Linked DNA regions of Homo sapiens: all the other regions are linked to region 1. Evidence: fine-mapped expression QTL. A gene starts in region 1. Each other region holds a variant in brackets. All regions are shown on one strand. Distances are from middle to middle. Region 1 holds the start of GNPTAB (N-acetylglucosamine-1-phosphate transferase subunits alpha and beta). Region 2 overlaps GNPTAB (N-acetylglucosamine-1-phosphate transferase subunits alpha and beta). Region 3 overlaps MYBPC1 (myosin binding protein C1).

Evidence for each region. PIP is the estimated chance that this variant, and not a neighbour inherited with it, causes the effect.
Region 2: its variant is the best candidate, but not a certain one, in a credible set for the expression of GNPTAB in nucleus accumbens (GTEx, PIP 0.54).
Region 3: its variant is the best candidate, but not a certain one, in a credible set for the expression of GNPTAB in esophagus mucosa (GTEx, PIP 0.56).

Annotation. Positions count from the first base shown.
Region 1 is chr12:101,829,813-101,832,312 of GRCh38, forward strand. It overlaps GNPTAB (N-acetylglucosamine-1-phosphate transferase subunits alpha and beta), which reads right to left and starts at 1,147. Exons shown (of 21, transcript NM_024312.5): 1 at 747-1,147. The coding sequence starts at 863. RefSeq lists silencers at 279-573, 930-1,329.
Region 2 is chr12:101,774,666-101,777,519 of GRCh38, forward strand. All of the region lies in intron 7 of GNPTAB (N-acetylglucosamine-1-phosphate transferase subunits alpha and beta), which reads right to left. Among named protein-coding and RNA genes, the nearest start is that of SYCP3, 37 kb to the left of the region's middle. The variant G/T (reference allele first, on the strand shown) is at 1,056.
Region 3 is chr12:101,603,204-101,606,057 of GRCh38, forward strand. All of the region lies in intron 1 of MYBPC1 (myosin binding protein C1), which reads left to right. All of the region lies in intron 3 of LOC105369938 (a long non-coding RNA gene), which reads right to left. Among named protein-coding and RNA genes, the nearest start is that of MYBPC1, 9.7 kb to the left of the region's middle. The variant T/C (reference allele first, on the strand shown) is at 1,222.

The sequences.
Region 1 (2,500 bases):
AAACAAACACTTGCACTGCATTCTCTGGCAGTACCTGGCACTGTGCTTGGGCCAGGGTTACAGTATTTACAGACAGCACCTTCTCTTACGGAGCTTACAATCCAGCATGGGTAAAGACTTCAAGCAAATGTATACTGTGGCATTTCTAAAAACTACTCTGTTAAATTTTAAAACCTTTTGTAACCTCCTACCAAAAAAAAAAAAAAAAAAGAAAAAGAAAAAAACTAAAACTAAGGAACAGATTTCAAACCACTTAAAAATACAGCTTTCCTCCCCGTTGCTAAAAGTGGCTTTCTTGGGCCAGGTGCGGTAGCTCATGCCTGTAACCCCAGCACTTTAGAAAGCCAAGAAGGGAGGATCACTTGAGCCCAGGACTTCCAGACCAACCTGGGCAACATAGGGAGACCTCCGTCTCTATTTTTAAAAAACGGTGGGCGAGGGAGCAATATCTAAAATCACATACATGCCTTTTTCCAGTTCTGACTTGCTCATAGTCTCTGCACACGTTTATGATAAAGAATACTGTATTTGGCCGGGAGCGGTGGCTCACGCCTGTAATCCCAGCACTCGGGGACGCCGAGACAGGGCGATCGCCTGAGCTCAGGAGTTCGAGACCAGCCTGGGCAACATGGCAAAACCCCGTCTCTAATAATGAAAAAATACATACTGTATCGGGGCATCGCGGGGCACGGCGAGGGCAGTGCAGGGTCGAGGCGCCCGGTCCAGGCTGCGGCGCCGCTACTCACCTCTCCGAACTGGAAGGCGGAGACGATGGTGACAACGACGCCCAAGAAGCACACGTAGAGCCCATACCTGTGGGACAGGCAGGTATAGGTCTGTCTCTGCAGGAGCTTGAACAGCATCACCCCTTCACCGCCACGCCACGCCCCGAGGAGCCTGAGCCGCCGCCGCCGCCGCCGCCGCCTCAGCGAGCCGCCATTCAGGGGCCCCGGTCGGGCCGCCGCGCGCAGGTCACAGCCTCCGGGCGCCGCTCATTGCAGCTCCGGCGACGGACGCCCGCTCGGCTCCGCGCCGCGGCCGCCGCTTCCGGGAGCCGGGAGCCCACGCCCTCGGCGCGGCGGAGGCGGACCTGCGGCCGGCGAGGCGGCCGGCGCCGCCCGGGTCTGGCCGGGCGAGAGGCGGCTGCGGCGGCGGCGGGGTCTCCAGCGCCACCTGGAGGACGGAGGGGCATAGGGAAGGTGCGCGCCCTCCCCACCTGCGCTTGCGCAGCGGGCCCTGAGGGCTGGGCTGGGAGGGGCGGAGCTGAGCTGGGATCCACTTACCCGGTTGGGCAGGCGACCAAGAGAAAACTGCCCCCTGCGTCGAGACTGTGCCATAGACGGTACTATAATGCCATGAATATTTTTGTGCATAAAACCTTCTCTGCACTTAGCATTCTCTGCAGAGTGCTAAAAGGAGATGCTGTATGTGGCTCCTTTCCTCCAACCCCCAACTATATTGTTTGAAAGAGGAAACCTTTGGGTTAAATCTGCCAAAACCGAATTTCGTTCATTCATTTAGTCGTTAAATATGTAATTTGTGCCTGTTAGGTGGCATAGTGCTTGGTGTCAGGTATTCAAAAATGAACTAGACCTGGCTACTGTTCTCAGAGAGTCTAGTGGGGGAGATAAACATGTAAACCACTAAATACAAGAGTTGTTATGATAGAAATCATGCGATGAACTGGAGGGGAACCAGCTCAGGGGTGGCCAGGTAATCCGACTTTGACAGCAGGTTTTTCCCACGAGATCCTTTCCTTGGTGCCTCTGATTTACGAAAGGGAGATCTTTTTCTTAATCCCAATGCACCCTAGTCAATAAGATTTTTTTCCTAGTCACCCTGGGAAACAATACACTTATCTAATGTTGCCATCATTCAAAGCATTTTTAAAAATATCTTGGGAACCAGCTTCAGGAAATACTCAAATTCGCACCCTCAGTTTGATGGTCAGGTGGAATTAACAGACTTGCAAAAGGGGTTAGCTTCACTCCAATCCAAGGCAAGATTTTTTACACTTTGCAGTCACTTCTTTTAATCCTTCTTTTAAAAAAGATGATTGATATATGCTATATGTACATGGCAAAAGATTATTGCAGTTGTACAAGACACATATAGTTCTGAGGTCTTTTCAAGCATGATAACAGATCTGAGGACTTAATCAGAAGGGGTAAAAAAGCATGGTAACAGATATAAAAACATCTGCCACTCAACAGGACTCTCAGGATAATGGCCAACATTTATGTAGCATCTGCCATGTGCCCAGCTCATCTAATCCTCACAATAATCTTATAATGGAGATACCATTATTATCCCCATTCTACAGATCAAGAAACTGTGATGAAAAAAAGTAACTATCTAACATCACACAAATAGTAAATGACAGAATTGAGATTTGAACCAGGTACTTAGGCTGTAGAACAGGGCCAAGATTAGGGGAAGGTACTGTGAAATGAGTCATGCAAGTTTGGAGTGAGATTCTGTCTTTGTTTATAGTTTTGAT
Region 2 (2,854 bases), 55 kb before region 1:
AAGATTAGAGCATATTAATATAAAATACATAGAGCCACTTTAAGATATTGCTTATTATAAGTGAGAATATTCAACAGTTCGTTCTACTGTTCTCAGCATTGTAGCCTATATTTAAAAATTGGCTTTAAAAACAATAGTAGCCAACAAATACAGGTAAGTTTGAATGCATGTTTTTAAGTCAAGCAAAAATAATGAGTGCAAAAGAGAAGGTATCCTTTTGAGGCAGACAAAATAGTATTTTAAGATAAGCCTTAGTTAAAAATCATGATATCAAACTGGTCATTTTTCAATGCCAAAAAGAAAGGCTGCGTCAAGTTGTCTAAACAATCACATATCTGCAAATACTCCCGAAGGACAGAGACCTGGGATGCTGCTAAACATCCTACAATACATAGGACAGTCCCCCAAGGATAGCGGCAACAGGTCTAAACTGTGAATGGTGCAAAGGTGGAGAAAATTTGGTCTAGAAGAACATGCAAATCCAAAATAACAAGGCTTTCCTATTAGAAGTTATTTTCCCAACAACTTTAAAGTGCTTACAAATTCAGAAGGTGTAATCTACTTTCATTTTGGATTCATTTGATTTAAAATCATTAAAAATCTGTTAGGAAAAAAACCCCACGTCTGCTAAGACCAACTGAAAACCAAATTAGTGCCTTTAAGTGATTCAACAATTCAAAGCTATTAGATCTTTTTTTTCTTTTTTTTTTTTTGAGACGGAGTCTCACTCTGTCGCCAGGCTGGAGTGCAGTAGCACCATCTCGGCTTGCTGCAACCTCTGCCTGCTGGGTTCAAGTGATTCTCGTGCCTTAGCCTCCCGAGTAGCTGGGATTACAGGCACACGCCACCACATCCAGCTAATTTTTGTATTTTTAGTAGAGATGGAGTTTCATTTCACCATGTTGGCCAGGATGGTCTCAATCTCCTGACCTCATGATCTGCCCGCCTCGGCCTCTCAAAGTGCTGGGATTACAGGCGTGAGCCACTATGCCCGGCCGCTACTAGATCTTAATACGTCCTGGTGGTTTTCTAAAACTTAATCAGTTTCAGAGTTG[G/T]TTGTTTCATCTTTATTTTAGAAATAAAACAAAAAAAGAAAAAGGTACCGTGCTTTAAAAGAACAAGTGCACATAGTGGTTTCAGAGAATTATCTAAAAGAAAGGGCATTAGTAGAAAATTATGACAATTTACTGTGACCTTAGGCCCTGACCAGAGCTTTGAGGGGGGCAGAGTCCATGCAGGACAATATGCTGTTCCCATCCTGCCTGCACAAACCACCTGTTCAGTCTTCAAGAACCCAGTGCAGCCTCTTTCTCTTTGAAAACTTCCCCCATGTCTCTGACCCACACAGACTTTTCCTGTTTCCAACTGCCAACTCTATACACACACGCTGCTTCCAAAATGTGACTATAAATGCTTGAGGGCAGGGTCTACATCTCCTCCACGTTTTGCACACTCACTCAACAACTACTATAATTGAAGGAAACTTAGCATGAGAATTCACTTGACAGCTTTGGGAAGATTTCCCACTTGCTCTAAAATATGTTTAAAAAAGAAGTGAACAAAAGCAAAAATCAAAAAATAAATGCAAAAACCCACCATGAATGAAAATGTTCTATGGATACAAAATGATTTAGAGGGATCTGAAAATAAGGACTGATGATCTGATTTATCAAAAGCTGAATTCTGTGTCCGTCATACACAAAAATTATACAGATAAATTAGAGAGTAATTAATCAGATTATTAAAGGACCCACCTCAAGGTATTTCAAATTAGAAAGTCTCTTACAGAAAAGACTGATTTATAAGACTACAGTCAAAAGATTTTATGAATTCAAATCCATTATCTTACAAATGAAACTATTTTCAAGTCCTACACTCCTGCCTCAGTTAATAAAACAAAAACAAAAAACTTCAGGTTTTGTTCTAAACAGGATGACAAAGGCCTAGTTGTGTATATACAACAATGTGCAAAGACACATTTCTGTGCCTAGAGTGACTCCTGTGAATAATCATACTGCTGAAAATGTTTCCCTATATATCCCAAGATATTGCCTCATATGGCTCATTCCTTAAGCAGCCCCCTAAGTGCCAAGTAATCACTAAGGGTAAAAAGGTGAATAGGGCAGTACCTGTCCTGAGATACCCGTGGCCTAGTGAGAATCTGTAGGGCAGAGCTGAGCTGAGCCCTAGGTGGCTCCAGGGCCACAGGCCATGGCAAAGGCCTCCTGGGGGAACCTGCGAGGGCAAAGTGGTTCAACAGTTCAAGTCTTGAAGTCCAATGTCTAACAGCCCTCTCCTCTGACATGCGACGTACACCCCTAATGCAACACATCCGAAACTGAGCTCTGGGTCTCCTTCCAAAAGACACTTGCTTCTGCCACTGAAGCTCTGAGTGTGGTTAATTCCATCACTTCTATCTTCACCAGAAAGGTCCACCTCCCCTTTCATTCTCCTCTTCCTCCTCCTGAATAGCTTGTAAGTCACCAAGTGATGTTGAGTGTTTCTCTCAGATGCTTCTGGAACCATTTCCATCGTTGGCATCCCACTGCCAAGCAACTTTTGCATGGGAACGTCTTACTGGGCTATGGCAGCAGCAGCTGAACTGGTTTTCCTACCACACCTTTCCCTAGTATGTTCCTTAGAAGCAGATCAGACTGTGTCCTTCCACGGCCTACAGGAAAAAATCTAGTATTCTTAACAGAGACGTTTCTCAACCTGGCCTCAACCTGTCTTTACAATCTCATCCTCACCAAAATCCCTGCCTGTGCTAGAAACCATTGCCTTGGTTCCCTGAAAACACCATTTATGTTCAGGCCTCCAGCCCTCTTGCTCAGGCTGTTCCCTCTACATAGAA
Region 3 (2,854 bases), 230 kb before region 1:
CATGGTGGCGCATGCCTGTAATCCCAGCTACTCAGGAGGCTGAGGCAGGAGAATCACTTGAACCTGGGAGAACGGAGGTTGTGGTGAGCCAAGATCGCGCCATTGCACTCCAACCTGGGCAACAAGAGTGAAACTCCGTCTCAAAAAAAAAAAAAAGAAGATTTCTCTCTCTTATCAGGGGTGCTTTTTGGTGGATAGGGTCTTCCTCAGTCTGCGCTTTCCTGAGATGACCACATAAAGAACTCTCCATGACCACATATGGATGTGGTGGGTGATTGATTGAGTGTCACTGTGTTTATTGCGGTGGAATTTTATTTTTATGACCCCACCTGGCGTCAGGACTCTTCTTCCTCTATTTTTAAAAAGTCACCCAATGTGAGGTCCAGCAACAGTTTGGAGCAAGGCCTTTAAGAAATTTATCCTATAACCCTATAGCCACATAAATAAGTGATACAAGATCAGGTACAATGGCTCATGCCTGTAATCCCAGCATTTTGGGAGGCCAAGGCCAGAGAATTGCTTAAGCCCAGGGGTTTGAGACCAGCCCAAGCAACATGGTGAAACAGCATGAAAAAATACAAAAATTATCTGGATGTGGTGGTGTACACCTGTAGTCCCAGCTACTTGGGAGGCTGAAGCAGGAGATTCACTTGAGCCCAGGAGGCTGCAATGAGCCATGATCATGCCACTGCACTCCTGCCTGGGTGGCAGAGTGAGACTCTGTCTCAAAATAATAATAACAATAATAACTGATTCAAGATCCCCAAAAAAGACACAGTAAAGGAGGAAACTGTTAACAATTCAAATTGCTTTTGCAATAATTTCTTTTTGACCTATGCTAAAATTTTAAGCTCCTTCAATCTGAGTAAATCTTCCCCTGCAAAACACACCCCATTTGATTCTTTAAAACATGGTAAGAGTAGTGAGGAAGGCAAGTCCTCAGATCTTAGCAATTTTCCCCCAGCCCCATGTTAACAATGAGAAGCTATTTGTTGCTATGTAATAAGGACCATATTTTAATCCTCTTCCTGTGTGAAATGACATCCTGAGATGAAACTTGCATAATTAGAAGGACAAAAGAATGAATTGACTAGGGGAGGAAAAAAAACCCTGTAGATTCAGGGAAATTCCAAAGGTTGAATAATGAGTCATTGAATATTTACATGATCAAGGTACAATTAGACTTCATCTATTCAGAACATTAGAGTACAGTACAGTCTT[T/C]GGCAACATTCGACCATAGTAAATAAATATGGATTAAATTGATTGAATCATTCTGAATAGCTGGATTCTCTGCACAGCTAAAGGTTAATTTTGTTATATAACCTCAGAGCCTTATTTTTTCCACCAGTTTGAATAGAAACATTCTTAAAATGTAATATATTACTCCTTGCTTTAAAAAATAAAGTACAGTGGATATAATTTGTCTTAAATTATAGATATCAGTTATTAGTAGCATGTGACACCCTGAGGGCCCAAATTATTTGCTCTTTTGAAAAATGGACTCATATTGATTTGTATTTTGAATTTCTTTCCAATTTTTCTTAGCTTTCCTACTTTATCCCTCCTAGAAGTGTGCTGTCTTCTTTAGTACTCTTGTCAGTCAGCATATGAAACTGTTCCCCTCACTCCCCTTTGTCCTTTATTATAGACGCCATTCCAGGTAATTAATCTGGCTGAGTAGAGTTTAGCACCACCTAAGGCACAACATTTAAGAAGGCACTGACTTTCTGGGTCACCAAAATGCAGGTTCAGCCCCTTAAGTGACCTCCTTAAATTTTGCTCCTCAGGCACCCTGCTTACCTTTCCCAAGTCCCAGGCCCTGGGTTTACTGAGGAGCTAGGGCCTTCTTCCATGAGGAAAACACAGAAACTCTTAGTGCCTGGAACGTAGGAGCTTGAGATAAATGCAGAGGCCCTTCAGAGGCCCTTTTATTTGGGTGGTCAGAAGCTGTTAGGTAAGTTGCTAGATAGCTGAATTCTGCATAGGGTAGGTGTTACTAGACACTATTGCCCTTTTGTCTCTATTATGGTGCACTTAGGAAAATGAGTTATTGCTTCAAAATCAATGTAAGGTTTTTATTTTGACTGATTCATTCATTTTATCAAAGCTGCAGATGTATATGATATATATGACCTGAGTTTGTTTTAAAAATAACATGCACAAAATCTTTTTCCAAAGAGATTTGCAATAAATTCAAAACCAGTGGTTCAAACCTTTTGGTCTCAGATCCCTTTGCACCCTTAACAATTATTGAATAAACTAAAGATCATTTGTTTATGTGCATAACTAGTGTATTATACACACTAACTTTAATTTGGAATACAGTAAATATTGTATTAGTGTGTCATATATTTACTGAATTAAAAATTAAAATTGGTTGGGCATGGTGGCTCATGCCTATAAACTCAGCACTCAGGGAAGCAGAGGCAGGTGGATCACCTGAGGTCAGGAGTTTGAGACCAGCCTGGCCAACATGGTGAAACCTTGTCTCTACTAAAAATACAAAAAATTAGCTGAGCGTGGTGGTGGACCCGTGTAATTCCAGCTACTCAGGAGGCTGAGGCAGGAGAATCTCTTGAACCTGGGAGGCAGAGGTTGTACTGAGCCGAGATCATGCCATTGCCCTCCAGCCTGGGCAACAAGAGCAAAACTGTGTCTCAAAATAAATAAATAAAAGTAAAATTGATAACGTTTAAAATACAAGAATACAGCCAAGTGTGGTGACTTATGCCTGTAATCCAAGCACTTTGGAAGGCTGAGGCGGGCAGATCACTTGAGCCCAGGAGTTCGAGACCAGCCTGAGAAACATGGCGAAACTTCGTCTCTACTAAAAATACAAAAATTAGTCAGGCAT